Homo sapiens: one gene and its partners. The protein of the gene in region 6 purifies or fractionates together with the protein of the main gene of each other region. This does not show direct contact. Each region holds a gene or a part of one and is shown on either strand. Other genes may lie near its edges. The genes, in order: ALDH2, TEC, ALDH5A1, ALDOB, UPP1, RPE and IMPA2.

What was found.
Region 1: the proteins of RPE (region 6) and ALDH2 fractionate together in Homo sapiens (co-fractionation; one large-scale study listed by BioGRID). This does not show direct contact.
Region 2: the proteins of RPE (region 6) and TEC fractionate together in Homo sapiens (co-fractionation; one large-scale study listed by BioGRID). This does not show direct contact.
Region 3: the proteins of RPE (region 6) and ALDH5A1 fractionate together in Homo sapiens (co-fractionation; one large-scale study listed by BioGRID). This does not show direct contact.
Region 4: the proteins of RPE (region 6) and ALDOB fractionate together in Homo sapiens (co-fractionation; one large-scale study listed by BioGRID). This does not show direct contact.
Region 5: the proteins of RPE (region 6) and UPP1 fractionate together in Homo sapiens (co-fractionation; one large-scale study listed by BioGRID). This does not show direct contact.
Region 7: the proteins of RPE (region 6) and IMPA2 fractionate together in Homo sapiens (co-fractionation; one large-scale study listed by BioGRID). This does not show direct contact.

The regions. Positions count from the first base shown.
Region 1 is NC_000012.12:111,790,933-111,794,432, forward strand, and holds part of ALDH2 (aldehyde dehydrogenase, mitochondrial isoform 1 precursor), read left to right. Parts: intron 1-373; coding exon 374-487; intron 488-1,128; coding exon 1,129-1,231; intron 1,232-1,665; coding exon 1,666-1,850; intron 1,851-3,500. UniProt on the Homo sapiens protein: Required for clearance of cellular formaldehyde, a cytotoxic and carcinogenic metabolite that induces DNA damage.
Region 2 is NC_000004.12:48,263,339-48,266,838, forward strand, and holds part of TEC (tyrosine-protein kinase Tec), read right to left. Parts: intron 1-3,500.
Region 3 is NC_000006.12:24,518,969-24,522,468, forward strand, and holds part of ALDH5A1 (succinate-semialdehyde dehydrogenase, mitochondrial isoform 2 precursor), read left to right. Parts: intron 1-1,432; coding exon 1,433-1,576; intron 1,577-3,500. UniProt on the Homo sapiens protein: Catalyzes one step in the degradation of the inhibitory neurotransmitter gamma-aminobutyric acid (GABA).
Region 4 is NC_000009.12:101,425,775-101,429,274, reverse strand, and holds part of ALDOB (fructose-bisphosphate aldolase B), read left to right. Parts: intron 1-751; coding exon 752-806; intron 807-1,632; coding exon 1,633-1,793; intron 1,794-2,636; coding exon 2,637-2,720; intron 2,721-3,500. UniProt on the Homo sapiens protein: Catalyzes the aldol cleavage of fructose 1,6-biphosphate to form two triosephosphates dihydroxyacetone phosphate and D-glyceraldehyde 3-phosphate in glycolysis as well as the reverse stereospecific aldol addition reaction in gluconeogenesis.
Region 5 is NC_000007.14:48,106,265-48,109,236, forward strand, and holds the end of UPP1 (uridine phosphorylase 1), read left to right. Parts: intron 1-608; coding exon 609-818; intron 819-1,096; coding exon 1,097-1,243; intron 1,244-1,953; coding exon 1,954-2,093; 3' UTR 2,094-2,472; downstream 2,473-2,972. UniProt on the Homo sapiens protein: Catalyzes the reversible phosphorylytic cleavage of uridine to uracil and ribose-1-phosphate which can then be utilized as carbon and energy sources or in the rescue of pyrimidine bases for nucleotide synthesis.
Region 6 is NC_000002.12:210,012,638-210,016,137, forward strand, and holds part of RPE (ribulose-phosphate 3-epimerase), read left to right. Parts: intron 1-3,335; coding exon 3,336-3,475; intron 3,476-3,500. UniProt on the Homo sapiens protein: Catalyzes the reversible epimerization of D-ribulose 5-phosphate to D-xylulose 5-phosphate.
Region 7 is NC_000018.10:11,998,507-12,002,006, forward strand, and holds part of IMPA2 (inositol monophosphatase 2), read left to right. Parts: intron 1-547; coding exon 548-681; intron 682-3,500. UniProt on the Homo sapiens protein: Phosphatase that can use myo-inositol monophosphates, myo-inositol 1,4-diphosphate, scyllo-inositol-1,4-diphosphate, glucose-1-phosphate, beta-glycerophosphate and 2'-AMP as substrates in vitro.

The DNA of each region.
Region 1 (3,500 bases), on a different chromosome or scaffold from region 6:
CAACTACTTGGGAGGTTAAGGCAGGAGGATCACTTGAGCCCAGGAGTTTGAGGCTGCAGTGAGCTGTGATCACACCACTGCACTCCAGCCTGGGTGCCAGAGAGAGACTCGGTCTCAAAAAACAAACAAAAACCCACTGTTGTTCTAAGTGAATGCTGTCAGGGGAGGGGCAAAGACACAGGGAACCCCAGCGAACAGACTCCTTCTCCGTCCCATTTAGAATTCCCATGTAGTGCCCCATACAATTAGCTTCTGACCACATGTGTCCTTGGCAGACTGTCCCACCCTCTCTGAGAAAGGATGTGTCTTCCCCTGGTTGAGCCCTTCAGAATAGGAGGGTGACTCCCAATGTCCCCTGGCTGTTTGCTCACAGGCTGGCTTTCCCCCTGGTGTGGTCAACATTGTGCCTGGATTTGGCCCCACGGCTGGGGCCGCCATTGCCTCCCATGAGGATGTGGACAAAGTGGCATTCACAGGCTCCACTGAGGTAAGGTGACCCTGGCCTCAAGCTTGCAGCCTCCTTGGCCCAAGCTCCCCCTGTCCTCAGTGGACGACATGCTCAAGGTGAGCTCCCGGGTGTCAAGCGGAGGCCTTTTCCTCCAGGACGACCCTGTAGGTACCAGGAGGGGTGGGGCAGGGTTGAGCCCTTCGTGGTCTGGTTGCCACACTAGCTGCCCTTGGGAGGGGCCAGTGTCCCATGTGGACTAAGGAGGCCAGGCCTGGCCAGACTCCACATAGCCCAGAGCTGACCGCTTGCCCCAAATCAAAGCATCTTGGCCAGGTCAGACTCCTTGACCAGGACTGCCATTGTGGTTAAAAATTAGCCTTGTGTGGTGGTGTGTGCGTGTGGCCCCAGCTACTTGGAAGGCCGAGGCAGGAGGGTTGCCAGAGCCTGAGAGGTCAAGGCTGCAGTGAGCTGAGATCACGCCACTGCACTCCAGCCTAGGTGACAGAGCGAGACCCTGTCCAAAAGAAAAAAAAAGTGAACGTCTATTTGGTGAAATTCTCTAGGTCTCTCGTGGTCCAGTTGCTCACTCAAGCTGTGGGGGACTCTGTTCTGTGTCTATAGAGTGCTGGACTCTTTTCTCCCGGCACTGAGAGCTTGTTCCTGTCTTTCTGTCCCCACAGATTGGCCGCGTAATCCAGGTTGCTGCTGGGAGCAGCAACCTCAAGAGAGTGACCTTGGAGCTGGGGGGGAAGAGCCCCAACATCATCATGTCAGATGCCGATAGTGAGTTTCCAGCTGGAGAAGGCCTGGCCTTGAAGGTAGCCCTGGCCACCTGTGTTGTGGCTCCAGCCGATCCTGTCGCCCCCCCAGTGCCCAATGGCGTTGGTTGCTGTCCCTCGGGCCTCAGGATAAGACGCCAGCGCAGGGCCTGCATGGCCTGGCCTTGGCCTGTCCCCAGCCTCTCCCTGGCTGCTCTCTGCATCATCAGGCTAGGCCACGCCCCTGCTATCTGACTCATCCACTTGCCGCCATCACGCCCTTTGTCCTGGTTGGCAGTGGGCTCCGAGAGCACCCCTCATCTCCCTGTATCTGTCTCTGGCACCCAGCAGGCATCAACCCTTACAGTGGTGGGAACAGGCTCCATTGGGCAGGCGGCCACCAGGGCCAGGGTCCTCCTCCTCACTGTCACCTTTCTGTCTCCTGCCCACTTCCCGCAGTGGATTGGGCCGTGGAACAGGCCCACTTCGCCCTGTTCTTCAACCAGGGCCAGTGCTGCTGTGCCGGCTCCCGGACCTTCGTGCAGGAGGACATCTATGATGAGTTTGTGGAGCGGAGCGTTGCCCGGGCCAAGTCTCGGGTGGTCGGGAACCCCTTTGATAGCAAGACCGAGCAGGGGCCGCAGGTGAGCCAGGCAGTGCCGCAGGGTCTGGGTGTCTAGAGCCAGCATGAGAAGCAGAGAGGGCATCGGGCTCAGATCAGTTGGGACTGGGTTCAGGTCTCAGCTCTACCACACAGCAGCTGTGTGCCTTTGGGAAGCTATGTTCCCTCCCTCAGCCTTCATTTCCCCATCCCGAGCCGTGCCCTGCCTCATTCACAGGGTGGCTGTGATGTAGAAATTAATCCTGGGAAGCACTTTGTAAATTGCATATATGTAACAAATACCAGGAGTGTCTGCAAAAGGGAGTGTGTGTTTCCAAGACCTTGGTCATCAGTAGAAGTGTATCCACCAGAAGATACACAGCTCTGTGAACCTTCGTGTCTGAGAGCCATGGTATGGCTAGTATAGGGACTTTATTTCACTTCATGTTTTGAGCTGTTTGATTTTATTTATTTATTTATTTACCTATTTATATTTTAGAGACAAGGTCTCTCTTTGTTGCCCAGGCTGGAGTGTAGTGGTGCAATCATACCTCACCTCAGCCTTGAATTCCTGGGCTCAAGGAGTCCTCCTGCTTTGGCCTCTCAAAGTGCTGGGATTACAGACATGAACCACCACACCTGGCCTGGATTTTACTTTTGAGCAGTTGTAGGTTTATAGAAAAATAGAGCTGAACGTACAGAGGGTGCCCATATATTCCTTCGCACCTCCCTGTTCCACCAGTTTCCCCTTTATTCACATCCTGCATGAGTGTGGTTCATCTGTTAGTATTGATGAGCCAATACTGGTACCTTATTATTCACTTAGGTCTGTAGTGTATATTCGGGTTTTTTTTTTTAATTTTTATTTTTTTTGGAGACAGAGTTTTGTTCTGTCACCCAGGCTGCAGTGCAGTGGCACGATCTCGACTCATGCCTCCCGGGTTCAAGCAATTCTTGTGCCTCAGCCTCCTGAGTAGCTGGGACTACAGGTGCGCACCACCACGCCTGGCTAATTTTTTGTGTTTTAGTAGAGACAGGGTTTCACTCTGTTGCCCAGGCTGGTCTCGAACTCCTGAGCTCGGGCAATCTGCTGTCAGGCACCCAGCCTCGGGGTCATTTTTTGTGTTGTACTTACTATGGGCCTAGACAAATGTATCATAATGTGTATGATACCATCATTCTAGTATCATATAAATATATTTGTGCCCTGAAACCCCCGTCCTCCACCTATTCTTCCCTCTTTTCCTCCCCTGAGCCCTGGCAGGCAACCACTGATTTTTTTTTTTTTTTTTTTTTTTGAGACAGAGTCTCGCTCCGTCACCAGGCTGGAGTGCAGTGGCGTGATCTCGGCTCACTGCAACCTGTACCTCCTGGGTTCAAGTGATTCTCCTGCCCCAGCCTCCTGAGTAGCTGGGACTTACAGGTGCATGCCACCATGCCCAGCTAATTTTTGTATTTTTAGTAGAGACAGGGTTTCACCACGTTGGCCAGGATGGTCTCGATCTCCTGACCTCGTGATCCACCCACCTCAGCCTTCCAAAGTGCTGGGATTACAGGCGTGAGCCATTGTGCCTGGCCGATCTTTTTATTGTCTCTATAGTTTTGCCTTTTCCAGATTGTCTTATACGAATCATACAGTAGGTAGCCTTCTCAGACTGGCTTCTTTCTTTTAGCAGTTTGCATTTCTGATTCC
Region 2 (3,500 bases), on a different chromosome or scaffold from region 6:
AGAAGCTGCACTTCACTGAAAGGTAAAACATTCAGAGGTCAAGATGGCAGAAAGAGTCATCCTACACAAAGTGAATTCAAGAAACAGGAACAATAGGCCAGGCGGTGGCTCACACCTGTAATCTCAGCACTTTGGGAGGCCAAGGCAGGCAGATCACCTGAGGCCAGGAGTTCGAGGCCAGCCTGGCCAACATGGTGAAACCCTGTCTCTACTAAAAATACAAAAATTAGCTGGGTGTGGTGGCGTGCACCTGTAATCCCAGCTACTCGGGAGGCTGACGCAGGAGAATCACTTGAACCCAGGAGCTGAGATCATGCCACTGCACTCCAGTCTGGGTGACAGAGCGAGACTGTCTCCACCCCCGCCAAAAAAAAGAAAAGAAAGAAAGAAAGAAACAGGAACAAGGGCTCTATGCCAGTAATCTACGTACCACCCAACCTAAGATATAGGTTTTGCCCCCTATGACAACTATGATCAATTGGTAGTGTACACTTAGAGTTGTATATGAAGGCATCTGAGGTCCAAACTCGGCTCAGCGGCCCAGCCTGATCCGAAAATGTTTCCTGTGGGTAGAGGAAGGGGAAAACAGCAACACACTGCTATGACTGAATGGTGCCAGTCTCTGGATAGAGATTGGTAAAGAAATTATACTCTAGCCACTATTAGCAGACTGGACAAAAACCTCTACTTTCTCTCCCTTCTGAAAGCCTAAGACAATGACAATAAAGAAATTTTTTTATTTCATGTATAAATCAGCAAGGATGGAGAGAATGAGTGAAGAGACAATAGCAAAAACATTTTGGTGGAATAAGCAGAAGCCAAGAAATAATCTGATTTACACCATGGAATCTCCAAAAGGTTAAATAATTAAAGGCAATTGAACCCTCTATAAAAAGAGGGGTGGGCTAAAAAATTAGTGACTTTTTAAAGTCTTTTTAAAAAGCTGGATCCCACAGATCCCTCTGGCCACTCCAACCAGTTAGGTGACTGCCCCTTCTCTACCCCAGCAAAAAACCTGGAGTTTCCTCCCTACTCCTTCACCCTTCAGGGGGTCCGTACACAAACAGCATGGAGGGGTTATATGCACATCTACATACTGGATGCTGAGACTTCCAGTCTTCTTTTCCACTTACTGACAACCAGGCTCTCTGTCAATCTCTGGGGAAAAGAATGGAAAAGGCTTCTCTGAGGACTCTCACCAGCCCAAGAGGTAACGACCACAGAGGTTCCCCAAATAAAAAGCCCAGCCAGATTCCCCCTACCATGAATTCCCCAGTCGACAAGCTCATCCACATCTTCAGCATTTTTTTTTTTTTTGAGACAGAGTCTCCCTGTGTTGCCAGGCTGGAGTGCAGTGGCATCATATCGGCTCACTACAACCTCAGCCTCTCAGGTTCAAGCAATTCTCCTGCCTCAGCCTGCTGAGTAGCTGGGATTACAGGCACACGCCACCACGCCTGGCTAATTTTTTTTATTTTTAGTAGAGACGAGGGTTTCACCATGTTGGCCAGGCTGGTCTTGAACTCCTGACCTCAAGTGTTCCGCCCACTTTGGCCTCCCAAAGTGCTAGGATTACAGGCGTGAGCCACCCTGCCTGAACCCCAGACCTTCTGCTTTTTAATCCCCCTCTGAAGTGTGAGTAGATAACCAAGGGCATTAGTTACACAAGGAAAACTTCTAACATGAAAGAGAAGAAACCTAAACAAATGAAAAGACAAAAGCCGCTTGGGAAATTCAATCTGTGCAGGAAGGAAAAAAAGTTGCTCCAAAAAATCATTAAGCTTCTTAGGGAGAAAGGAAAAGACACTGACACTATAAAACAAAAACCAGAAAGAAATAGACACACAAACCACACACATACAAATATATATGTATATATTCAGGCAACCAAAAAAATAGAGATTTTGATTTTAAATATTCATGATTACAGTCATGAAAAACTTATTTTTGGCCCAGTCAAAAATAGCCAATATCTGAACAATATGAGCTTCTCACAGACACAGAAAATAGAGGGGGAAAAATTACCAATGAGATAGATATATATATATATGTGTGTGTATATGTATATATATACACACACATATATATACACACACACATATATACGTATATATATACATATATACACACACATATATACGTGTGTGTATATATGTGTGTATATATATATATATATATTTTTTTTTTTTTTTGAGACAAAGTCTCAATCTGTTTCCCAGGTTGGAGTACAGTGACTCAATCTCAGCACACTGCAACCTCCGCTTCCTGGGTTCAAGCAATTCTCCTGCCTCAGCCTCCTGACTAGCTGGGATTACAGGGGTGAGCCACCACGCCCAGCTAATTTTTGTATTTTTAGCAGAGATGGGGTTTCACCATGTTGTCCAGACTGGTCTCGAACTCCTGACCTCAGGTGATCGGCCTGCCTTGGCCTCCCAAAGTGCTGGGATTATAGGCATGAGCCACTGCGCCCGGCCACCAATGACATAATTTAAGAAAATTTCCCAAACTGAAGAATGAAAGTTTCCAGATTCAAAGAGCCCAACACAATGCATGAAAACAGACCCAAACCTAGGCACAGTGTCGTGAAATTTTAGGACTGTGGAGGCCAAGAGAAAATTCTATAAACTTCAGGGAGGACCCAGCAAATTGTAACCTGTACACAGATTACAAGAAAAAGCTGAGGAATCAGTAGAGTTCTAAATTTCTCAACAGCAATACCACAATGTGGAAGTCAATAGAACAATGCCTTCAAAATTGCCATCTTAGAAATCTACACTCAGTCAAACTATCAATTGTCAGTTGAAAACACATTTTCAGGCATCTACAGTCTCAGAAAAGTAGACCTCTAGGCATCCTATTCCAGGAAGCTCCTTTAGGATGGGCTCTACCAAAAGAAGGGAGTCAACCAAGACTGAGGAAGACATGTGCTACAAGTACCAGGAGATCCAACACAAGAGACAAATGATGAGAATCTCCAGAATGATGACAAAGGGAACCCTTGGGGTGACAAGTGTGCCAATGTACCAAAGGCACCCAGTCTGGATTATAGCAAGCCAGTAGGCTCAGGAACAGCTTCTTGAGGAAAACGAAATTGACAAAATACCTGGTCAATTGAGGGAGAATTTGGAAAACTGGCCAAGAGCTGTGGGTTTAATCAATGAAGAGCACAAAATAAATAAAATGAACAAACAAATCCATTATTAACTCCAAGGAAAATAAAAAGTTATGTTTGGTCACGCCTGTAATCCCAGCACTTTGGGAGCCCAAGGCAAGTAGATCACCTGAGGTCACGAGTTTGAGACCAGCCTGATTAACATGGAGAAACCCCATCTCTACTAGAAATACAAAAATTAGCTAGGCGTGGTGGCACATGCCTGTAATCCCAACTACTCAGGAAGCCGAGGCAGGAGAATCGCTTGAACCCGGGAGGCAGAGGTTGTGGTGAGCCAAGATCGTGCCATTGCATTCCAGCCTGGGCAACAAGAGCAAAACTCTGTCTC
Region 3 (3,500 bases), on a different chromosome or scaffold from region 6:
ATGAAATCTCTTACTGGATATTTAAACTATAATAGCTATAGGTACCAAAAGCCTTATGATTATACATTGAGCTAGCAATTCTACATGTTCATCCTGACAGAATCATCACAGTGTTTTTGTCTTTTGTTTTGTTTTGTTTTTGAGATGGAGTCTCGCTCTGTAGCCCAGGCTGGAGTGCAGTGGCGCGATCCACAGCGTTTTTTTAATGGCAAGGATGGAAACAACCTAAATGTCCAACAGATGGGGCCTGAATAAATAAATTACAGAAGAGCCATGCAGTGGAATACTATGCAAGCATCTAAAGGAATGTTCTAGGCCGGGCACAGTGGCTCACACCTGTAATCCCAGCACTTTGGGAGGCTGAGGCAGACAGATCACTTGAGGTCAGGAGTTCAAGACCAGCCTGGCCAACATGACGAAACCCCATCTCTACTAAAAATACAAAAATTAGCCAGGTGTGGTGGCACATGTCTGTAATGCCAGCTACTCAAGAGGCTGAGGCTGAAGAATTGCTTGAACCCAGAAGGTGGAGGTTGCAGTAACTGGAGATTGCGCCACTGCACTACAGCCTGGGCAACAGAGCGAGACTCCATCTCAATAATAATAATAAATAAAGTTCTAGAAACATATGTGCTGACACAAGAGGATCTTCACATTAGAGTGTTACATTAAAGGAGCAAGATATAAAGGGTTATGAAAATTTTAAGATAGACGTCCCAAATATGTGATTCATTGGGAAGATAAAGCAGGTTACGAAACGGTATAATTATATAATTATACCATCCTGTTTTTTTTTTTTTAAATGTACATGTACCTGAATCTGCATGGCTACATTCTAAATGGATGTACTTTAAAATGTTATCAGTGTAAGCTGTGGGTTGTGGGATTCTAGGTGATTTTATTTTCTTATCTCTATGATTTTTAAGCCCATCATATAATTGTTTTGAATAGATAAACACTTACTTATATGGTTGAAAAATTAAGACAGTATTAATGTTTACCATGACAAGTCTCACCCTACCCCAACCCTGACTCACTCCCTCTTTCTATAAATAATGACTTTTAGTGTCTTGTCATCCCAGTGTTTATTTTACTAATTTATTTATTTATTTAATTTTTGAAATGGAGTCTCCCTATGCTGCCCAGGCTGGTCTGGAACCCCTGGCCTCAAGTAATCCTCCCACTTCAGCCTCTTAAGGTGCTGGGACTACAGGTGCACACTACCACACCCAGCCTCTTCCCAATGTTTCTTTATCAAATACAAGCAAATGTAAATATATATTCTTATTTCTCCGTTTTCTTATGCAAAGTTATCCCATGTACACCACTGTGCACCTTGCTTTTTTCACCATTTGGTAATTTTTTTAAACAAAGGCTTAACAATCCTGGTAATGGATTTCTGTGCTCACAGCTTTCTCTCCTCTGCTCACAGATCCTGTTGCACCACGCAGCAAACTCTGTGAAAAGGGTCTCTATGGAGCTGGGCGGCCTTGCTCCATTTATAGTATTTGACAGTGCCAACGTGGACCAGGCTGTAGCAGGGGCCATGGCATCTAAATTTAGGAACACTGGACAGGTGAGTCCTGGAGAGTATTTCAGGATGTGTGTTTGCGTGTGCATGTGTGAGTGTGTGTATGTGTGTGTGTGTGATATGTGTGCATGTGAGTGTGTGTGTGTGTGCGTGTGTGTGTGTTACAAAGATCCCACCACCTCTACTGCCTTATATCCCATAAGGAAACTTTTGGGTTCCTTCCATTATTCATTCTTTATTCATTGACTCTTTCAGCAAATATTTAGTATATGCCTTACTTTTTATTACCAGGGTTATACTAGGCTCAGAGGGGCCCCCCCAAAATAAGGTACAGTCCCTGGCTTCAAATAATTTTCTGAACAGCAGATGTCCTTTAGTCAAATTGTTCTCTGTTTTCTTCTTTCCCCTATCCTTTTAATCTGGTTATTTTTATAGTTTTCTTTCATTGATCTTTTTTCTACTGAACGGATATAATCTCCTCAGACACAGAACAGCCTTGAACAATTGGGGTCTCTGAGGCCAAGGGAAAGAAAGTAAGAAAATGTTGAGGAGGGTGGTGGCTGGAATAACTCAAAACCCTGTTGCCTGCTATGACCCAGTGGGGCCTCGCTGTCCCGAGATGGAGGGAGCCTCAGAGGTGCCCTCTACAGGGCACAGGCCCACGCCAGCAGTGTTTTAGAGGAGCATCCAGGCTGTCCTGGGAGACCAGAGGCCTGAGCTCATGTCTTCCTAGGAAATCCTGGAATATTTGATCTGTCAGGGACCTTCACAGTTATCAGCTCTACAAACGTTGCATTTTAGAGATGAGGAAATGAAACTCTAGAAAGAAAAAGTGACTTAGAGATCAGACGTCTTTGGGCCACAGTGTCAAATCTGCTGAGGAGCTGGGACTCTGAGCCAAGGCTCCTGTCTTCCAGTTCTATCCAAGCTGCTGCCAGGGTCCTGCCTTCTTAAATATTCTTAAGCATTCATCTTAAAAGTACCATCAATATGTAATTTTAAATGCATTCTAGAAACAGAGTAAATATCCCTGAAAGGTTATATTGTGAAAAAACTGAAATGTGTGATATTCTCTATCAAATAATTTTCATCCTTGCCTTGGCCTTTGGTAATTAAGTTTTTCCCTTCCACATAACCTAAATAAGCTTGGTTTTGTCTGAAATAAGTATATTTTCCTTCATAAATACAAAATGTCAATATATGTTACCATCAATTACACTGTAAGGCTACAACTTGGGGACAGGTATGGTGGCTCAGAACTGTAATCCCAGCATTTTGGGAGGCCAAAGCAGGAGGATCACTTGAGCCCAGGAGTTGGAGACCAGCCTGGGCAACAGAGTGAGACTCTGTCTCTACAATTTTTTTTTTTTTTTTTTTTTTTTTGTGTGACAGAGTCTCACTCTGTTGCCCAGGCTGAAGTGTAGTGGCATGATGTCAGCTCACTGCAACCTCCACCTCCCGGATTCAAGAGATTCTCCTGCCTCAGCCTCCTGAGTAGCTGGGACTACAGCTAATTTTTCTATTTTTAGTAGAGATGGGTTTCACTATGTTGGCCAGGCTAGTCTCGAACTCCTGACCTTAGGTGATCCACCCACCTCAGCCTCCCAAAGTGCTGGGGTTACAGGCATGAGCCACTGCGCCCAGCCAAAAAAAATTAAAAATTAGCTGGGCATGGTGGCAAGTGCCTATAGTCCCACCTACTTGGGAGGCTGAGGTGGAAGAATCACTTGAGCCCTGGAGGTCAAGGCTGCAGTGAACTCATCACTACTGCACTCCAGCCTGGGCGACAGAGCGAGACCCTGTGTCAGCAAAACAAAAGACTATAAGTTGGTGTTGGACCACATTCCTCTTAGCCTCTGCTGTTGCTGCAGCATCACAGTCTCCTAGGAGAATTGCACTCTTTCCCCACCCCCCAGGGAAACAAAATAAAAGCCATTTGAAAAAAACATGGATTGGGTGGCTTTTTTTT
Region 4 (3,500 bases), on a different chromosome or scaffold from region 6:
GACGTGGAAAGATTGATCACCTGAGCCCTGGAGGTCGAAGCTGGAGTGAGCTATGGTCATACCACTGCACTCCAGCCTGGATGACCCTGTCTCAAAAAAAAAAAGAGTAAGATCCTGTCTAAAAAAAAAAAAAAAGAAAGAAAAAAGAAAAGAAAAAGTTTATATTGCGTAATTATTGTTAATGGTAACTATCATAATTATTGAAGCATTTACTATTCTATCTTATAACTAGGTCTTCCAATAGTGCATAAACTTCTCAAAAGTGAAAACTAGTATCCATTGAATAAGAGTTTTTACCATTCCAAGCATTCATTTAATTCTCATAACCTCTGGTAGTAGACTCAATTATTACCCTTATTTAGAGATGAAGTGAGAAAACTGAACTACGAAGAGTAACATAACTTGCCCACACAACAAGGCAAGGTCAGAGCCAGTTTAGGCTAATTCTCAAGCTCATGACTTTTGCCTTTGCTATGTAGAGAGTAGAGGTTGTATCCTTAATTCTCTTTACCTCCTGTACTAACACAACACCTGGTGCATGCAGGTGCTCAATAAATGTTAGGGTAGACACTCTCACAGTGTACCTTCTAGGTAACTTCCCTTCTGCTATGGACTGAACTGGGTCCCTCGCACTAATACACTTTACTAATTCAACTCCTTGATCTGTAAAAGATGCAAACTGTTAGTTAGTTCAAGAGTTCTGCTTGTGTTTTCCTGACATCTGACACCTGTTAATTATTTGTATCCACAGTTAGACCAAGGAGGTGCTCCTCTTGCAGGAACAAACAAAGAAACCACCATTCAAGGTAAGGATATTGCCCACTGAGATGAATCATGCCAGTGTAAGCTAGAAATGAAGGCAAGTAAAGAAGGAAGCAAGGAAAAACAAAACACAACTATTACACTGGTCTTAGAGCCACACGTACCTGGTTTTCAATACCAGCTCCTCCATTTAACAACTGTGACCTTGGGCCAGTCACTGAAATATTGTGAGCCTCAGTTCTCCTATCTCAAAATGGGGATTTCTCAAAATGTTGTGGGGATTAACTTAGACAATGTACATAAGGTGCTTACCACAGTACCTTGGACAAAGAAGATTAAACTCTGCACCCGGAAGTATTATTTTTAGAAAAAAATTAGCAGCAGTAGAGTGGAAAGTCCCCACACTTTGAGGTCAGACACACCTGGGTTTGAATCCTGGTTCTATCACATGCTACCTAGATAATTTTGCAAGGTACTTCTGCCCAAGTAGACAAGCATTAACTCACAACATTGGGTTAGCTAAGCAGAATTTGAATCCCAGCTCTGTCACTCTTGAGCAATTCAAACTTGGTAAAGTTGCTTAACCATTAGGAGCTTCAGTTTCCACCTTTGTAAAATGAGTATCATATTAACTATTGGTTTCTTCTATTCTATATATGGAGTAGATAGTATGTATGTCAAAACACTATTTATTAAATCTAAGTCTTCTGGTTCAGTGTTGTGATTAATGCTGATATGCTTGGCTGTTTTCAATCCTCAAGCACAGTGGATTGAAAGCTAAGCAAAGGGAGAACTCCTTCCCTTTATTAGAAGCCCCATGGATCAGGTACAAAGGTACAAAGAAGCCTTTCTCTCTTTTGTGACTTGCAGGGCTTGATGGCCTCTCAGAGCGCTGTGCTCAGTACAAGAAAGATGGTGTTGACTTTGGGAAGTGGCGTGCTGTGCTGAGGATTGCCGACCAGTGTCCATCCAGCCTCGCTATCCAGGAAAACGCCAACGCCCTGGCTCGCTACGCCAGCATCTGTCAGCAGGTGCTCTGCCTTCCCCTTGGGCTGAAAAAGAGTAGGCTAGAGTTTTCTTCAGAGCTTTTCTTTTCAATTATACTATAACTACAAATGGACCTCCTTTTCCCTCACCAGTATATCCTAGTGGCATTTTTCACAACTTTTGCTATAGCCAACTGTGGTAGGGAAAGATTTGGTCCCACAAGCCAGTAGGAGTCCAACTAAGCTATGAGTTCAAAGGATAATGCCATCAACTGCTGCCCTCTGTCAAAGCTCCATAAGCTGTCTTATAAGTGATCGGGCTTTTGAGGGCAGGGAACTTGGTTGTCTATACTCCGTAACATCCAAGACATGATCCTCTTAGATTCCTAGCTGAAGAGTGACAGCTCTGACCGAGTTCCAATCCAAATAATTCTTTGGAGGATGGTGACCAGATGCTAAAGTTTCCAACACATACTAAAATGTCTCTGGGTCCGAGTTAAGTTTGATTTTCTTCTGTGAGTACTATGTTGGGGTTACTAGAGTTGTGGACAGCTGGAGATCCCCAATTAGAACTCTAAACACTGCTTGAATTTCTTCATTAACCCAACTTAGAGACATCTTTCTTAATGATTTATGCTTAGATGCCCTAAAAAGGCAGTAGCTAGGTTCTGAGGCAGCTAGAATAATCTCTAGAAAGAAATACAGTAATTACGGGTTTGTATTTATTTTTTATCTCATTCTGAAAAATTCTACTGTCTTTAAGTCATCTATGTAGTATTTCTCCATAATGGCTTCAATTTATACCAATTGCAACTGTTGAATCTCCTCCTAAGGAAAGGATAACAGTGAGCACAGCTTCACTTTTGCTTCCTTGATTTTCCTTTTTAGAATGGACTGGTACCTATTGTTGAACCAGAGGTAATTCCTGATGGAGACCATGACCTGGAACACTGCCAGTATGTTACTGAGAAGGTAAGTTTTAAATATGAAGGCCCCAATTCTAGTTGAAAAATCTTAGTTTTAGGTAACAGCTGTTACTTAACATATAACAGCTGTTATATCTGAAGTAGCCTTTAGGATGGATAGCATAGAGAAGGTAGGGAGGTGCTCATCAGCCCTTCACCTTTTTGGCACATGGTATACTCCATATAGAAAAAGCACAGGAGTTGCAGTACCAAGACTTGGGTTGGAGAATCCGCTTTTCCACTTGTGGGATCTTGGGCAAGTCATATTATCTCTTTTGACTTCAATTCAATTACATGTACACAAAGAAATTTTAAAATAAGACATGTGGCTCAAATGAGAAGATGTAATTAGAAAGTACTTTATTCCATCTGACTTTCTAAATTAGCCACAGTGGATCTGAAAGAGGGTGGTTCTATTCATACACTGTGAGAAAGTAGGAGAGTCATAATGTCACCTGACCTTAGTTTCTCTACTTGGAAAATTATGTGGACTGAAATGCAATCTAAGAGCACTTCCACCTCTAAAATGTATGATTCTATGACTACTCAGCTTCTGTAAACATGGACAGTGGAGGCCCGTTTAGATGACCCCAAATAGCTAAAGCAATGCAGTCTCAATAAGGAATGACATTGACCAAGGGAGTAATGGAAATAAAGGAATGAAGGGCTTCTAGGAAGCAGAGCCATGCCTGTCATTCATGCAGTGAATGAGAAGCTAGATTAGGGGTGATGAAGACAGGCCAGTTTAGTTGTGCTCAGTGGCTATGGATTGCAACACATTGGTCTA
Region 5 (2,972 bases), on a different chromosome or scaffold from region 6:
AAATATGGGACAAAGTACTTGAAGGTTCCTGGCCATTTTTATTTTATTCTTTTTTTTTTCTTTCGAAATGGAGTTTGCTCTTTTTGCCCATGCTGGAGTGCAGTGGCGTGATCTTGGCTCACTGCAACCTCTGCCTCCTGGGTTCAAGTGATTCTCCCGCCTCAGTCTCCCAAGTAGCTGGGATTACAGACACCCGGCACAATGCCTGGCTAATTTTTGTATTTTTAGTAGAGATGGGGTCTCACCATGTTGGCCAGGCTGGTCTTGAACTCCTGACCTCAGGTGATCTGCTCGTCTTGGCCTCCCAAAGTGCTTGGGATTACAGGCGTGGGCCACTGCACCCAGCCCTCTACTTTGTTTTTTGTGCCTTTCTCTTCCATAGTGTCCATAATGATCATGCATTAATTACTTTCATAGCTTAAAAAAAAGTTGAATGGGAAAAATGGGTCACTGTGTATTTGAGAACAGTACTGGATGCTTCGTGTTTGGATGTGTGGGTGGATCTGCTTCTTTCTTCCATATGCTCTGCTGTGTGCTCCCTGGCTGCCCTGCTTTAATTTTATTTTGTTTTACACCCTGCATATCTTGATGTCTGCTTTTTTCCTCAGGTCTGGAGCCCGGCACTGTGGTCATAACAGAGCAGGCAGTGGATACCTGCTTCAAGGCAGAGTTTGAGCAGATTGTCCTGGGGAAGCGGGTCATCCGGAAAACGGACCTTAACAAGAAGCTGGTGCAGGAGCTGTTGCTGTGTTCTGCAGAGCTGAGCGAGTTCACCACAGTGGTGGGGAACACCATGTGCACCTTGGACTTCTATGAAGGTGAGGCAGCGGATACGAGGAGGCATCTTTCAGCCAGGGAACCCTGGTCCGTCCCCTGAGCCTGCCTTCTCGCTGTGGACTGGCGTTTCCACTTGCCAGGCTGCTGTCTCAGTTACACTTCGCCCAGAGTGGTTATAATGACCCGTTTGAGTGGTCATTATAGGCAGGACCTGGATGGGTCTTGCTTGTCCCTGTGTCCTTCTGGGCATCAGTGGCGCTGATGTGTTGTAGGAGCTTCTCACATGCATGTGGTTCTCATGTCTCCATGTGTGCCTCAGGGCAAGGCCGTCTGGATGGGGCTCTCTGCTCCTACACGGAGAAGGACAAGCAGGCGTATCTGGAGGCAGCCTATGCAGCCGGCGTCCGCAATATCGAGATGGAGTCCTCGGTGTTTGCCGCCATGTGCAGCGCCTGCGGCCTCCAAGGTAAGCGGCACTTGATGGGCCTCGGCGTCCCCTCCTCCCTTCACTTCTGCTCTCCTGGAGCCCCTCGCTGGGGCCCCTCCTCCTGGGGCACCCCGATACCCATTTCTGGTTTCTGTTTCCGCTGCCCCCAAGTCACTTTCTGACATATGTGTTGTCACCACAATGCTGTTCAATGTCTGACTGTCACACCCTGACAAAATGCAGGATTCTCAGTGACCTTGTGCAGGAAAAATGACAAAAAAGCTTTTGCTGCCCCATGAGGCTGCCACCAGGTCTATAAAAAACTCGGCTTTCAAAGCGCTTTGGCTTTCTGAATTGTGGTTCATCTACCCTCAAGGTACTAGCCACCCTTGAAGGCCAGCTCACAGCTCTGCAGAATTCCCTTATCACCTCGGCCAAAACGTGCCTTTCAAGGTGGTGCTTGCAGCCCTGAGCTGGTCCTGGAATGGTGAATTCCTTTTGGAAGCAGGCACGAGAATAAGGGAGGGACAGGGCAGGGTGGTGTCAGAGAGGGAGGAGTCTTCCGAGCCCCTGGACCAGCGCCTTTCCCTCCCGCACTCCATCCTCCGGCCCCGCCTGACTGCATGGGCAGCCTGGTTTCCTGAGGAGGCAGAGAGGCTGCTCCTCAGAGCTCGTGGGTTCTTCATCCCGTCCCTGTGAAATGTTAGACCCCCGGCACCTTGCCTTGATGTGGTCTTTGTCCTTTGCAGCGGCCGTGGTGTGTGTCACCCTCCTGAACCGCCTGGAAGGGGACCAGATCAGCAGCCCTCGCAATGTGCTCAGCGAGTACCAGCAGAGGCCGCAGCGGCTGGTGAGCTACTTCATCAAGAAGAAACTGAGCAAGGCCTGAGCGCTGCCCTGCACCTCCGCAGACCTGCTGTGATGACTTGCCATTAAAAGCATTGTCCAAAATCCCCTGTTGTGTGGACTTTGAGCACACTTTACACAAGAATCTAGAAAATCAGATCGCGATTAAGAGACAGAGAATCTTGGATTAACCGCATGGGAGATGTTCTTCCTTTTGAAGTTTCATTGGAGCATTTTCAATGATGTTAGCCTGATTTGGGGTTTCTTCAAGAACATTCTACCAAATTTTTGTACTATTTCTAGGGAAATTTTTCAGACTTTAAAATTCTAATGGTAGTCAGATTTCATGTCACTAAACAAGAAATCTGACAATAGTGCCAGGAAACTAATTTCCTGATACATTAAAAAAATTCCATGCACCACTTGCAATGAGAGATGACTGAAAACCAATGAAGCAGACAGCAGGGGTGTTTGAGAAATAATGCGTACCTAAACAGGCATATACACAGTTTCCAAATTATAGTCACACACATTCCCAAAACCATCCACACCAGCTTAATCACACGACAGTAATCCTCCCACCCATTGTCCACAATGCTAGTGTCTTGATCCAAGTACCTAGGGATGGGAAACGGGACACCTGGGCTCAAGACAGCTTGTCCTATTGTTTCTGTCCATGGCTTGTCAGCCTTGCATTCATTCCTGGCCTCACACTGACATTCCTAGACTCCGTGTCTCTTAGCTTCCTTCTCGGTTGCACCTTATAGTGGAGGGGAGAATCCAGGGTGGCCCCTCTGTCTGTCTCGGGTGAGTCTGGCAGCAGCTACTTGGGCAGGCCTAGGTCCCCAGCTCAGGGGCAGCTGGGTCTTGGGTCTTCACTGGCTTGTGGGTTGCCCAGGCTCCTGGCTGACTTCTCAACTCT
Region 6 (3,500 bases):
AACTGACAGATCAACTATGGTTTTTCAGACCTGGCTATTTTAATGACATTTAAAAAATATTAACTAAATGAGGCTGTCTCTTCAAGGAAAGATACCTTGTCAGTTTTTGTTCCCAAAATTAGAATTTTAAAAAACTTGTGTATCTTACCACTCTGGGTTTGATAGCGTCCCAACAGTTAACAAGCTTTTCTGATGAGATCTGTAGTTATTTTACCAAATGTGATTTTGGGGTACTATGGAATGAAATCTGTCACTATTTGTAAGATGTGTGTAACTCAGTAAATCAGTACTTAAAAGACCCATTCAAAATACAAGACAAACAATGGGTTTTAATGTAACAAAGAATGAAAAGCTCATTGATAGGGTTTACAGAGTGCACACTGCAGCTAACCTTTATAAAATTACCACCCAGCACATTTAAGATAGGCTAGGCTAAGCTATGATGTTTGGTGTGTTAGGTATATTAAATGCAGTTAGAGATAACAGTATTTTCAATTTAGATTGAGTTAATTGGGATGTAACCCCATTGTAAGTTACAGAACATCTGTATTACAACAGATTAGATACAGAACAGATGTGAGAATATAGGTGTCTTCTGTTAAGCCAGACACTGAAAACTTGCAAAAATGTAAAACAAATAATACCACTCTTAATTAATAGGTAATAGAGTTATCCTTTTTTTTTTTTTTTTTGAGACAGTCTTGCTCTGTCACCCAGGCTAGAGTGCAGTGGTGGCCTTCATACCTCACTGAAGCCTCAGTCTTGATGGGCTCCAGCAGTCCTCCCACCTCACCTCTCCCCTCCAGTAGCTGGGACTGCAGGGGCACACTACCATGCCTAGCTAATTATTCTGTTGTTGTTGAGAAGGAGTCTTACTATGTTGCCCAGGATGGTCTCAAACTGGGCTCAAGCCATCCTCCCTCCTCAGCCTCCTAAGATTATAGGTGTGAGCCACCAAACCCGCCAAAAATTACATGCTTTAAAATGTCTTAGTTTGAATTTCTCATACATTAAATATCTATAAATATAATCCATATCAACAGAAGTTTCTTGGGGTCTTTAATAATTTTTAAGAGTGTAAACTCCTGGGCTCAAGCAATCCACTTGCCTTGGCCTCCCAAAGTGCCAGGATTACAGGCTTGAGCCACCGCACCTAGCCATATATAGTGTTTTTTTAATGTAACTTAGAATTTAATAGACCTTAGATTCTTTTTAATCAGCATATTGTTGACCAAGTTTATGAATAATAGATTATGATTATAATAGATGATAGAATGATTGGGAATTGCTGATCTAATGTTAACTATGCACAGATTTGCTGAACCATTGACTCCCTGAACACCATAGAACTTCTCCATTGAGGGTTGCTAGTGGTTACTGGATGCTAGAGGTTGAGTAAGGATGACATAGCTAGCAGTCTGGTAACTTAAGGAATGAATAGAGTAGGTTTTTTTGTTTTTTGTTTTTTTTTTGAGATGGAGTCTCGCTCTGTCGCCCAGGCTGGAGTGCAGTGGAGCGATCTCGGCTGACTGCAAGCTCCGCCTCCTGGATTCACGCTGTTCTGCCTCAGCCTCTCGAGTAGCTGGGATTACAGGCGCCCGCCACCACGCCCAGCTAATTTTTTTGTATTTTTAGTAGAGATGGGGTTTCACCGTGTTAGCCAGGATGGTCTCGATCTCCTGACCTCGTGATCCACCCGCCTTGGCCTCCCAAAGTGCTGGGGTTACAGGCGTGAGCCACCGCGCCCGGCCTGGAGTAGGTATTTTAAACCGGCTTGAATTTTCCTTGTTTATGATGCAAAGAATAAGAAACACCAGATTTAATACATTTTTTTAAGAATAAAGTTTTACCTATTAAAATATGTTCTAATTTAGGCCGGGTGTGGTGGCCCATACCTATAATCCCTGCACTTCGGGAAGCCAGCGTCAGAGGATCACTTGTGGCCAGAAGTTCGAGACCAGCCTGGGAAACAGTGAGAACTCATCTCTATTAAAAAAAAAAAAGTTCTCATACAATTACTTTTGCTGGATTAGAAATACAAACGTTAATCTTGACTTTATTAGTCAAGCTTTATACTTTCTTTTTCTGACTTTTTTTTTTCAAGGCTTTATTGTATTTCATAATTGTTCTGAAATGTTAGAATTTTTTTCTTAAATATAGCTTGGCTGTTTCAGAAATGTGCTTCCTCTAGCAAAATAAAAAACTTAAAACCTCTCCTCACTACCATCTATCAAACACAGGATTCTTCACAGTGTTATTTCTTGGTTTAGCTTGTTTTAAGCTGCCCTCTCCTTCTTATGAAATGCTATTATGTTTTAAATCAAGATCTTTAAGAAGGCCATGCCCATTTTCACCTTATGTGTTTATATGAATCAAGCTTTAGAATTAGGATGAATATCAGGTTTCTTGCAGTCAACATGTCCTTCCCCCTAAATTTGTTCTTGCAGTCTTGCCTCTCAATTAATGGCAGTTCCGTTCTTCTAGTTGATAAGGTCAAAATCCTTGATGCCATCTTTATTTTCCTCTCATCTATCTATCCATGGAGGATCCTCTTATCCTCCACATCTCATCTATCCTCAGCTCTCTTTGCTCTTATTTAAGAACATATCCATCCCGAATTGCTGCCATCATTTTTCACCTGGGTTATTGCTATCGTAGCTTCCTCAGTCGATAGTATCTTGTCACTTCACTGTGGTGGTTTTTCCCAGTGGCCTGCAGAATGCTGAAGGGTTTCTCCTCACCACATGCTTCCCTGACCTCTGACTGGTGTATCTCCTTCCCCAGGCACACCAGCCATATTAACTGCCAACCTAGTGTGCATTTTACTTACTTATTTTGTTTATTGTTTGACTCTCGCATTAAGAATGTAATCCCTATGACAGGAGAGTTTCATGTTTTTGCTCTAACCCTAGGACCTAGAATAATTAATGATGCAGCAATAGCTCGATAAATTGAAAGAATAAATGAAAAGGATCACTTAATTTTTCCTAGAGGAAACTAGTTTGCATGGATAGTATGACTTATTCTTTAAGTTTTTTAGAGTGGCATTTCCTGGACCTGGACCTAGATTTCCTGATTTTTAGATGTTAACTTTTTATATACAGCACTGTATGCTTTTTGTGGGAAAATAGTGTTTTTTGTAAATGAATTTAAATAAATCCTTGTCTTCAAAATAAGAGGAAACTACCTATACTGAATTAGAACTATTTAAATAATGATTTGTGTGATGGCCAAAGAGTTCTTATCAGAAGTGGCAAAAACTACATACAGGTTGGCTTCCAATAACATGAGCCAGGTATTTTTCAGTAATATTTTGAAGTGTCTTTTCTTTCTAGACATGCACATGATGGTGTCCAAGCCAGAACAGTGGGTAAAGCCAATGGCTGTAGCAGGAGCCAATCAGTACACCTTTCATCTCGAGGCTACTGAGAACCCAGGGGCTTTGATTAAAGACATTCGGGAGAATGGGATGAAGGTAAGAAATCGTGATGAGAGTGTTT
Region 7 (3,500 bases), on a different chromosome or scaffold from region 6:
TTTCTCAGTGGGAACATTTACAATCAGATTCGAGGGCATATCCCATTTCATGGGATAAAGTGAATTAGGGAAAATAAGCTTTTACTTTACACTGAAATCTCCTAAATTTGAATTCATGGGATTATACAGGGCACAGGTGTGTAACATGATCTTGTTTTGGGCCGTTCTTACAGAGGAAGTTTCATGCTCTTTTCAAAACCCCTGTGTTTTTCTTTTACTCGAAGAGAAGTTGTTTCACAGGTGCAACAAAATAATTTTGAAATAATTTCAAGTAATGGAGAAATAATTTTTCTTGTAAAAGAATAATGGTGGAGTCATTAAGGCTCACTAGAAACCCAGAGAGCCTAGGCTGTGATATTAGCTCTGAGGTCAATGATGCAAGAAGTCAGTGACCCACAGAGCCACACCTGCTGCCCCCGCCGCCCCCCCCCCCCCCCCCCACCCAATGGCAGGCTGAATACAGAGGGGACTCGAAGGAGTGGATAATTCCTTTGCCTGGGAGGAGGATGTTTGCATGTTTAACCCAAATCCCGTACTTTTATTTCAGATCATCAGAAAAGCCCTTACTGAGGAAAAACGTGTCTCAACAAAAACATCAGCTGCAGATCTTGTGACAGAAACAGATCACCTTGTGGAAGATTTAATTATTTCTGAGTTGCGAGAGAGGTTTCCTTCACACAGGTAGGTGTACTCCTCTGGGAAACACCCCCAGTAACCCTGGCCACACTCATAGAGAATGCAGGGTCTGCCGGGGTCAGGGGGCTCTGCTGTTTGTTGATGTGGCCAGACGTGAAGCCCTAAGCCACGCAGCCTAACCTGCGATTTGTCAGTTACTTAGTAAGCAAACTCAGCCCTGTTTTCATTCTTTTTACTGTCATCTTAACAACCATCACGTCAATGCATCCTCTTGTGAATATTGAAGCAGCTCTTTTTACAACACATGCTCAGGAAAAGCTCCTTGCACCCCTGTACTCAACCATTTGTTATTTCTGGAAGGACCCACTAGAAGTGTGACCCACCCTAAGAAGCCTGGAGTGGTGATGTCCCCTGGTGGCCTATGCCTGTTCAGCTGCCTGGGCAACTTTCCCAGGAGGATGGGATGCCAAGTGGCACTGGCAGCCGCGTGGGGCCCCCGGCCCACCACTAGTGCTTAGTGATGCACGCCCCCTCGCCCAGGCCAGAGGGCGCAGTGGGAATGGCTGCCACAGCCGGGCCCCAGAGCTGTCCCTGCAAGAGGCCTGTATGAGCACCTCTTAACCTTTTTGGGGTCACCCTTTGAGTATTTGATGCTAGCTATTAATCTTTTGTTCAGAAAAATTAAAATATTTACACAGCATTTTGCATAGCATTTTAAGGGAGCCATGAACCCCAGATTGAGACATCTTCTTTAACTCTGGGGGGCTCTAAGGCCCCTCTCTCACCTCTAGAGTTCTGCAGTATAAATGCTGAAGACCATGCAAGGGATCTTTTTTCTTCGTTACATAGAATCTTTTAAAGATGTTGGATTCTTAAAACTGGAATACCAGTTATTGGATTTCTGGCTGTAGGGTATTATAACTGTCAGGTTCCAGGTTTAGATGGACTTAGGTGGCAGAAATATAGATGGTACTCTCCCTCAGTGTCCATTCAGCACATGGTAGGCTTAAAATACTTTTCTTTACATTTATTTTTATATATTTTTTAAGAGATAGGGTCTTGCTCAGTTGCCCAGGTTGGAGTGCAGTGGCATGATCATAGCTCACTGCAGCCTTGAACTCCTGGGTTCCAGTGATCCTCCTGCTTCAGCCTCCTGAGTAGCTGGGATTACAGGAGCCACTCCACCTGGCTCTTTTTTTTTTTTTTTTTTTTCTGTGAATGATTATATAAATGAAAGAACAAGCGAGTGTTAAACACTTACCTTCTTTTTTTTTCCCGTCGTTTCCTTCTAACTTGTTAGGTTATCTCAAGGTTACCAGCTCTCCCTCTGAATTTCTGTTTGCCAGTCGCTCATGTTTGTTTTGTTGACAACCTTTGAGTTTAAGCTTCTCTAACTTCCTATTTCCCTACTCTGCTTGAGGTCAGGATCCCAAGAATTGGTTACAGTAGTTATAGGGTGTAAAGTGTTTGTGATTTTTTTTTTTTTTTTTTGAGATGGAGTCTTGCTCTGGCGTCCAGGCTGGAGTGCAGTGGCGTGATCTTGGCTCACTGCAAGCTCCACCTCCCGGGTTCACGCCATTCTCCTGCCTCAGCCTCCTGAGTAGCTGGGACTACAGGTGCCCGCCACCACGCCCAGCTAATTTTTTGTATTTTTAGTAGAGACGGAGTTTCACCTTGTTAGTCAGGATGGTCTCGATCTCCTGACCTCATGATCCGCCCGCCTCGGCCTCCCAAAGTGCTGGGATTACAGGTGTGATCCACTACGCCCGGCCCCAGTGTTTGTGATTTTTAAAAAGCCTTTTAAAACCTAATTTTAGGGTGGCTCACACCTGTAATCCCAGCACTTTGGGAGGCTGAGGCGGGCGGATCACGAGTGAGGAGTTCAAGACCAGCCTGAACAACATGGTGAAACCTCGTCCCTACTAAGAATGCAAACATTAGCCGGGTGTGGTGGCGTGGGCCTGTAATTCCAGCTACTCGGGAGGCTGAGGCAGGAGAATTGCTTGAACCTGGGAGGCGGAGGTTGCAGTGAGCCGAGGTCACACCACTGCACTCCAGCCTGTGTGACAGAGCAAGACTCTGTCTCGAAAAATAAATAAATAAACCTAATTTTAATCAAAGGGCAATAGCAAAAGAATTTATCATATGGATTCTTTGAGAGGAAGCATGCTGCAGTAACGAGCCGGCTGTTTCCAGGTCCTTTATTAACCATATTGGCCTAGAGGTTTCTGCGGTGATGATCCGTGTGGCCGTGGCATGGGAGGGCTGGCTCATCTGCGTGGGGTCTGGTAAAGGCTTGGAGGAGATGCAGGATCAGGCACAGTGAAGTTATTGGGGCTGTGATGTGTTTCAGTCAGGTCACTTGGACAAACTGCACTCTGAGATTGCACGCAACCCACTGTTGGGTTAATGTGTGCAGTTGGTTCCATTTGTAAAAGGTAAATTTAGATACTCGCTGTTGTGTACACAAGGTAAAAGTTAATGTATTATGGGGTGAGCACAGGTACCTCCCTCCACCCTTGAGGCCTTAGGGTTGCCAGGGACCGCCAGACTCCAGAGTTCCTTGGGAAAACCATGATGCAGAGCAGGGGATTATAGGTAGGGTGAGACAGGCTTACCTGGGAGCGTGCCCGGGCTGAACACCAGCCTCCATCTCTGAAAAGGCCCCCTGGTAGGGTCAGACCCACACACCTGTCCAGGAATCAGTGATTGAAATCTGGGGTTCCCAAGCTCTAGCCCACAAGTCAGTGGACTGTGGCTGCACCACGGACAGCCCCAGTCTGTGTGTCACCCCCATCTTCCCTAGCTCTGAGGGTGAATGTGTGGACACGGTGAAAGCAGCTGTTCTCTTCTCTGCTCAGTGT